Linked DNA regions of Homo sapiens: region 2 is linked to region 1. The links come from fine-mapping of genetic effects on gene expression. A gene starts in region 1. The other region holds a variant in brackets. All regions are shown on one strand. Distances are between the middles of the regions.

The links. PIP is the estimated chance that this variant, and not a neighbour inherited with it, causes the effect. A credible set is the group of variants that fine-mapping cannot tell apart.
Region 2: its variant is the best candidate, but not a certain one, in a credible set for the expression of TCERG1L-AS1 in thyroid (GTEx, PIP 0.90).

Annotation. Positions count from the first base shown.
Region 1 is chr10:131,092,747-131,097,136 of GRCh38, reverse strand. TCERG1L-AS1 (TCERG1L antisense RNA 1) reads right to left here and starts at 1,919. Exons shown (of 2, transcript NR_120623.1): 1 at 1,838-1,919; 2 at 1,360-1,749. It overlaps TCERG1L (transcription elongation regulator 1 like), which reads left to right. Exons shown (of 12, transcript NM_174937.4): 12 at 3,819-4,390. The coding sequence ends at 3,975.
Region 2 is chr10:131,145,394-131,149,783 of GRCh38, reverse strand. It overlaps TCERG1L (transcription elongation regulator 1 like), which reads left to right. Exons shown (of 12, transcript NM_174937.4): 7 at 3,124-3,278. Among named protein-coding and RNA genes, the nearest start is that of TCERG1L-AS1, 52 kb to the right of the region's middle. RefSeq lists an enhancer at 2,133-2,634. The variant T/C (reference allele first, on the strand shown) is at 2,247.

The sequences.
Region 1 (4,390 bases):
CTTTGCCTCCGGGGTTCAAGCAATTCTCCCTGCTTCAACCTCTCAAGTAGCTGGGATAACAGGCACCCACTACCATGCACAGCTAATTTTTGTATTTTTAGTAGAGATGGGGTTTCACCATGTTGACCGGGCTGGTCTTGAACTCCTGACCTCAGGTGATCCACCCACCTCGACCTCCCAAAGTACTTGGATTACAGGCGTGAGACACCATGCCCAGCCAGAATCAGTTTTTTCTTTCTTTTTTTTTTTTTTTGAGATGGAGTCGCTCTGTTGCCCAGGCTGGAGTGCAATGATGCAATCTCGGCTCACTGCAAGCTCCGCCTCCTGGGTACATGCCAAGTAGCTGGGACTACAGGTGCCCACCACCACACCCGGCTAATTTTTGTATTTTTAGTAGAGAAGTAGAGACGGGGTTTCACCATGTTAGCCAGGATGGTCTGGATCTCCTGATCTTGTGATCCACCCGCCTTGGCCTCCCAAAGTGCTGGGATTACAGGCATGAGCCACCGCGCCTGGCCTGCATCGGTTTTTAAATGGACATTAATTGATGCTTTCTATGAAGGCATAGGCCCCCTTTGTTTGACCTGTGATTTGGTTGATCAAGAATTAGGTGACCTAAGTTAGTGCTAGTTACACAATCCTCATAAAACTTCTCTAGCTATTCTAAGGACAGGTACTTTCTGAATAGGGAAAAAATAGCATGAATTATCTTCATCACAAGTGCTAATGTAGACAAGGAAATGTGTGTCCTGTTGCCTGCAACTTGTGATTTTCCATTGTTAAAGCAGTCATGAGAATGCTGGGTTCTAGCCATGGCTTAGCTGTGTCCACCCACCAGGTGGCCTTGGGACAGAGGCGGAGGAGGCAAGGGCTCTGGAAAGGTGCTGGAGCCCCTTCTCTGCCTTGGTTCACAGCCTGGCCCTGGCCCATCTTCTCCTGGCCATGGGGTAAGTATTGGACCTTCCTGTGCTCCCGAGCCCTCCTCCAAATGGGAGGATGACCACACACACCTCAGAAAGTGACGAGGAGGATGGCGTGAGGAGTTGCAGGGAGGGACCCCGACGGTGCCTGGCAGGCAGGAGGAGCTCCGAAAGTGGTAGCTGTCATTACTGCTATTGAGACCATCATTACTGTTAAAGACATCTGGCCAGCATTCTCTATTGATAAACTAGCAGCAATAAGCCACATACTCCCCTTCCCATGAATACATCATGAAGACAACGGAAAAAATATTCGGAATGCATTGAGCCATTTAAAAAAGATGACATACACACATACACGCACACAGAAGGAAAACGAGTGGTAGAAATTAGAAGGGAGTTAAACGGACTCTTTTTAAAATGAGAGTTAATTGCCTGCTATTTTTTAAAATAAATTTTATTGTATATATTTAAACTATACAACATAATGTTATAGGGCACATAGAGATAAGATGCTTACTATAATGTAGCAAATTATTTTAAAATTTACACTGGGATATATTGCTTTGATAATTATAAAGCTATTTTTTTCATTTTAAAAGTAGCTAAGTTTTCAACATTTCAAAAACTTTTTCCAGATCTTCTGTATACTTTTCTGTAGGCATCCTAGTGAAACATGTACAATTCAAATGACCACATGCTGGAGAGCCAGGCGCGTCCCCATGCAGGCGACGTGGGCCTCTTAGAAGCAGCCTCCTGAGGCTGTGTAGCCTCCTGCAGCCATACAGTCCCGTCCTGGTCGCCCGTCTCAGCCTCGGTCCTGAGCAGCCTGTGGGAATGGTGGCGACGGGACAGTCCAGAACACTCCTGGACAGCCCCTAGCCCCAGCCCTGCCCGCCTCTCGGGAGAGCAGCTACCGGGGACTGGGTCCTAGCCAGGTGGGGTTGGCCGCCCGGTGGGGTTGACGCCCGGTGGGGTTGGCCGTCCGGTGGGGTTGGCCGCCCGGTGGGGTTGACACCCGGTGGGGTTGGCCGCCCGGTGGGGTTAGCCGCCCAGTGTTCCTTCCTGAGAGCTGCAGCAGCCGCCTCCTTCATGGCAGGCTGGCCCGAGTCCCACTTAGCAGAGGGAGAGCAGAGATCCAGGGCCTGTGAATCAGCTGACCTTCGTGAGTTCACACCACAGCTCATCAGCATCAGCAGAAAGCCGGTTGCTGCCCCTTGGCATGGCTAAGGGGCCACGGAAGCGGGAGGCTCCCTTTCTTTTCAGGGACTCTTCTTTTCAGAGAGGCCCAGAATAGGGCCTGTCTAGCAGCTGCCCCTGTCCAGCCCCTAACTGAGAATGTGTAGATGCCTGTCTAGCCAGGGGAGCGTGGAACAAGCCCAGGCAAGTCTGACCGTTTGACTCATCCCCCGCAGGTCGGGGTGGAGTGTGGCTTAGCCAAGGTACACCAAGGTGGTTACATCAGTAAAGGAAGGAAGGGGGAAGGAGGGAGAGAAGGAAGAAAGGAACCGGGAGAAAAGGAGGGAGGGAGAGAAGGAAGGAGGAAGGGAAGGCAGGGGAGAGGGCAGGAAGGAGGGAGGGAGGAAGAGGGAAGCCAGAGAGAAGCGCTTTTCTTGCGAGAGATGTGTAAACAAGCACCCCCACAGACGGAGAGCAGGAAAACGGCAGCGCCTTGGGGAAGGAATGAGACGAATTGTTCAATGACAGAAATGAGCATGAGTCTGCTAATTATTTGTCTTGTCTTCTAACAGCCATGTCGGCATAATCTTGTTGTTTGTATATTTCAGAAGCTATTAAGTTATAATAATTTAACACAATAATTCCGTGTCTGCAAGGAAGTGTAAAATTCTCTGTAAGGAGAAGTGGGAGGGAATAAGAAGAATCCCCCGGACAAAGAATGTCCACATTTTCCGTGCACCCCAGAGCACACTGCCCAGGCCAGGCCCTGCCCGACTGTCGCTGGACAAGCGAGTGCATCTGCATAGGCCAGCGGCTCCAGGCCTTGGTCCCTCTACCTCTGTCCCTGTCCCTGGCTTCAAGTTCAAGGCTAAGAGAACAGGAAGTTGCGGGGCCCGGTGCCTGCGAAGGTCAGTTGGTCACAGCAGAGGCGCATCCTGTTTTGCCCTCTAAGCTGCCGTAGCCTTGAGAACAGCCTTGCTGCTCTAGGCTGGGTCGCTCGCATTTTCTTACGGGGCACCACCTGGCCTGGCAGCTCTGATTCGCTCCATCAGTGTTTGGGGCTCACTACTTGCCAGGCACTGGGCTGGACATTCAGGGCATTTATTGGAGAACGAAGCAGATAATGTCTCCCTCATTCGAATGTGGGAGTCCAGTTCCGCAAGTGAGGTTTAACAAGATCACCACTGTGAAGAGGGCTGTGATGGAGTCACAGTTCTCTGAGCCTCTAGATAGGGCGAGTTTCCCAAAGAAGACCCCCTGGCCTGGTTTCTCATGACGAGCAGCTCTAACTGGGGGAAGAAACAAGGGAAGGGTGTACCAGGCAGAGGGAACAGTGTAAGAAAGACCGTGGCAGGCAGAGCCTGGTGGCAGCAAGGGAGGGGCGGAGGAGACCTGGCCAGCAAAGCTGTGATCGGGGCGGCTGGGGGAGTGACAGCTGCATGAGACGGCTGAGGAGGCTGGTGGGGGCCGCTCATTTCCGGAGACCACTCAGAGGAGAGACAAGGGGGTCCTGCAAGTGAGGGTGGGTCAGGGCCCTGCAGGACCCGGGTGAGGAGCAGGCACGGCTGGTCAGAGCCGCTCACCCACCGGGTGCCCTGCCACCCACGGCCAGGCCTGGTGGAAGGGCTGGATGCTTGCTCAGGCGGTGCCGCTGCAGGATCTCTGGGGAGGCCAGAGTTGCTCTCTGGAAGGTGTCTCAGGAAACTCTTTCTTTTTCAGGACCACGTTTAAGGAGTTTGCAGAGAAATACGGCCGGGATCAGAGGTTCCGACTTGTTCAAAAAAGAAAGGACCAGGAGCATTTTTTCAACCAATTCATACTTATTCTTAAGAAACGGGACAAGGAAAACAGACTAAGGCTGCGGAAAATGAGATGAGTTTGTGAAAAAATGCAATAAGCCCGGGGGTTGACCCTGGGCGTGCCGGGGGCGAGGGGGTCACGGTGGAGACGGACACGGGCGTGGGGCGGCCGAGACCTGCACGGCCCAGCGGGCACCGGCACTGCGGGGTCTTCGTTCTCAGAGGATTACTGTTTCATATTGAAGCTCTCTCTTTTGTACATTCAGAGTTTGATGCATTTCTAATCACCGTGATACGTCGATCCCTTAATTGTTTTAATTATGCAAATTACTTGTAATATACACAAATTATCAATCCACTGCAGGACTGTGGGGAAGCAGGAACGGGAGCCTCTGTAACAATCTCAAGGCATTTGTGTCATCACCTAAGACGATTGGCGAAAACTTTTCTGAAAACCTTTGTGAATTACTTCGTTTCTCCAGGATTCCCGCA
Region 2 (4,390 bases), 53 kb before region 1:
AGTCTAGCTGCATTCCTTGCAAGAGGGGTGCCTGGAGACAGAGCCCAATGTCGCAGTAGTAAAACTGTCCACGTCCTACGTGTTGCCAAAGAGCCCAGGCCTCGTGGGGAGCTAATAATAGGCTCTGCCTGTGGCCCACTCACTCACAGCTCCACCCGGGAAGCAGGTCATCACCAGGTCTGCGTCTGGAGGAAAGGAGTCAGTCTCTACCCTGGGCTTATGTTCCCTATTGGCCCATGCTGTCTGCAGAGTTCATATAGTAGCTGAATTGTGCATAATTTACAGCACAGTGTGGTTACCTTCAGCTTTAGACTCAATAAAAACTTCCTATGCTAGCCGGGTTCTGCACCATAAATGCATACCCACAGCCTCCCTGCAGGCCCCAGAGGTCAGGTATCCCTGGCCTGGGCTTGCTGGGGACAATGGTCTGCCTGATCTGAGAGCAGGAAGGGATCCAGCTACCTGGGTGTGGAGTCTGCTGTAGTTGGCCAGCCTCATTTTCCAGCCTCCAGCATGGGCCTGGGCAGCACCCCACGGGCCCATGAGCCCGCTCCCCTGAGGGCAGGACCTGGCATGGGAGTGTGATACACTCTATCTTGGTCCATTTCCCTAGTTGGGTGGACTGTCCAGATAAAGCAAATTCCCATTCCACCCCCCATCTGAAGGGTTGAGGGCATGAGGCCACCAGCGAGGGGAGGCGACCTTCTCAGGGTCACCTGGTAGGTCAAGGGCAGGGCTGGAGCTGGAAAGTTTGCCAGGCAGAAGGGCAGGTCATATTCTCCCACATGGATGACCAGGCCAGCTGTGGCCAAGGCCTCCAGGCACAACACTTGGGGTTCAGGTCAGGGCTCCCAGATGCTGGTGCTCAGGACAGAGTCGCCCCGAGGGGGAAGCCCATTGATTCGTCTCCCACAGACTCAGGGCTCCAGCGACACACATTGATTCTCTTACAGTTGGGAGGATCAGAAGTCTGACACAGGTCTCACTGGGCGAAAGTCAAGGTGTGGGCAGGGCTGGATCCTTCTGGAGCCTATGGGGAGGTCCATTTCCTGCCTTTTCCATCTTCCAGAGGCCCCTGCAACCCTGAGCTCGTGATTCCTTTCTCCAGCCTCAAGGCCAGGCATCTCCCGATCTCTGTCTCTCCGTGTGTGTGTGCATGTGTGTCTCTGTGTGTGTCTACGTGTGCATGTGTGTCTGTGTGTCTGTATTTGTGTGTATGTGTGTTTCTCTGCATGTGTGTGTCTCTGTGCATGTGTATATGTGTGCATTTGTGTCCCTTTGTGTGTGTATATATGTGTGCATGTGTCTGTGTATGTGTCTGTGTGTGTTTATGTGTGTATCTCTGCATGTGTGTGTCTCTGTGTGCATGTGTGTCTCTGTATATCTGTGTGTTTATGTGTGTGTCTCTATGTCTGTGTGCATGTGTGTCTCTGTGTGTCTGTTTGTGTGTATGTGTGTTTGTGTGTGTCTCTGAGAGTGTGTTTGTGTGAAACACCTCTGCCTCCATCTTCCTATCTCTTCCTCACTGATCTTCCCACCTCCCTCTTAGAAGGACCCTTGTGATTACATTTGGGGCCACCTGAATGACCAGGCTATTCCCCCATCTCAGGGTCCTAATCCCAACTGTACAGACCCTTTGCCATGTAAGGTGATGCACACCTGTTCTAGGGATCAGGACGTGGACGTCTTTGGAGCCATCATTTTGGCTCCCACACTCATGAGCGTGGCTGGGCTGAGTAGTGGAGCCGGCACACCTTCTCAGGGTGATTTCTGGGAGGGGTCCTGGTCTGCCCAGGGTTGCCAACATGCAGGGCCCCAGGCCCTGAGCCCTCTGCCTGGCCCATGGAACGTGCCTGGGTGAGTGAAGTGTGGAGTGATTTTCTGCATGCAGAACAGAGTGGCTTCTTTTGGCACGAATCCCCAGCTCCTCCCGAACCTGTGCGAGGCTGGCGGGAGTGAGGCGTGAGTGGGCTACCGGGGGCCTAGGCCGTGCCCGACAGTACCCCCAACAGGTCGGGGGCCTCCCTCGGGGAAGTCAATAGCTAGAGGTGGGTATGTGGGTGTTCCCACCCATTCACTCCTGCACATCTGAAAAGTCCCAGGAGACTTGCGGAGCCAGAGGGACCTTCTGAAGTCACTGCAGGAAGCCGAGGCCCAGAGAGGGGAGGGGGCTTGCCCCAGGGGAACCTCCTGGGAGGTCCACACCTGGAACGGGCCTCGGTGCCAGCACAGGCCTCAATCTCTAA[T/C]AGCACCCTGACACGACTTAGGGGTTAAACCCAGAGCCCCGGCCGGCCTTGCTGGCCTTTATCTGCCGCGCTTGCTCGTGGGGACAGCGCGGGGTCAGAGTGTCAGAGTGCAGAGTCTCCCGTGCACCTCCATGCCGCAGGCTCCCGGACCCGCATTCCTTAGGGAGGGACTTTTTTCCTTTCCTTCCCTCTCATTAATTTTCTTCTCTTCATTTTTTTTTCTTTTTAATCTTTTCTGATAACTTTTCACAGATAAGGGGCTTAAAAAGGGCACATAATTCCTTTTAGATGTCTTCAGTTTCCATAAATGAAAATACAAATCTTCCTTATTTGCCCATCCACAAATGAGCAGGACACCGGGGCTGTGGTTGCTAATGACAGCAGCCCTTTTAATTCTGCTGCTGCCGGAGGGTAATGACCTGTGGCCGTGCGCATTGCTTGATGGCCATGCAGAGCTCAACTGGGGAAGTGTAGGGAGCCGCTCTCCGAATTACTCTATTGCCGGAACCAGGGCCAGGAGGCGCCCCAGAGTGCTCTGCATCTGGAATGGAATTTCACTGAGGCAGTGACAGCTGGTGGGCTGGAGAGAGCTCTGCCTGCCTGTGACCTTGATGAGCTGCTTGGCTTCTCTGAATGTTGTTGTTCTCCCTGGTCTAAGGCTGGTGATAAGAATGTCTACCTGTTAATCAAATGAGTCAGATCCGTAAGGTCACCTAAAAAGGCAGGCTTTGTCTTTAGTATTCATACTATCCATAAACAAGCTTTGCAAATGTGTGGATTTCGGTCCTGAGGGGCTTTTTCAGTGAGAGTTCATGCTAACGACTTTCTAATTAAGTGTCTCCGAGAGCGACTGAGATGAGTTTTTCCACTCAAACAGGTGTGTGGTCTGGACGGGCGATGACCGAGTTTTCTTCTTCAACCCAACGATGCACCTGTCTGTCTGGGAGAAGCCCATGGACCTGAAGGACCGCGGAGACCTCAACAGGATCATTGAGGACCCGCCCCACAAACGCAAGCTGGAGGCACCAGCAAGTAACTAAGCCCTGGGTTATTTACACCTCCTTTGAAGTGTTTAAGCTGCTTATTTCTAATGAACGTAAAGTGAAAGCATGTTTCTTCTTGGTTATGTTGAAAATTGACTATTAAGGAATCCTGTGCCCGATTGCAGAGTTTAGTAATCAAGTTTTTATGGCACTTCCTGCAGAAACCTTGATCCTTCCAAGCGGTCGGCTCTGGCTGTCTTTTTGCATCACGTAAGGTGATTAACGCAGAGATGGCCATTCATTCCCTCCGCCCCTCAAAGCTTCCATCCAGCATCACTGTTACCCAGCATTTTATTCTTGTTCCAAATGTCTTATGAACGCCACTTCAGAGACCAGATGTACGCAGATGGGAGTGTGTTTTCTTCCACCTTACATTCACTTTAGACCTTTGCAGCACATTGATCTGCTGTTGTGCTTGGATGGATGCCTCAATTCCATAAAACCCTGGTCACGGACAGGGGAAGAGATTTTCTTCAGCTGCAGAGGAATGGGGTGCTTGGCAGAGGCAGTTGTTTCTGACAATGCCTGTAAATCTTGTTTCGCCAAGAAACAGAGAGGAACTTTCAGCATTTTCACAAAGGATCTTTTCCGATTAGATCTAATACATATTTTATTAGCTGCTGCGTGGGGAAAGCCCTCCTCCCAGAGCATGTGGATTCAAACGGTCTTGACTCCACTGCAGACATTTGAGAGCAGGAGCTCCCTGCCAACTTGAGAGGCAGAGATGCCTGGCTACAAGGCCAGGCCAGTGAAAGGGGAGCTTGACTCTTTGTTTTAGTTTTGTGTGGTATTCTATTGGGTTCTTAGTGGCATTTTTAATTTCACGTCATTGAGGGCTAATGCTAGATGATGGTAATTCACACTTTGTGTCAAATCCAGAGGTATTTGACTGAAGCTTCAGAAGACAGTATTATAAAAGTTTTATCAGCATTTTTAACCATGCTAAGAGACATGGTGGTAGTCTTTTAAGATTGAGACATCACACATTTAAAATGTTTATTCCATTTAAAATAGTAACAGCATTATCCAGAGACTGGATCAACTGATGTTGGGAAAAGAAAAATCTCCAAGGTCCATATGGAGTTGAGTCTGTAAAACGTT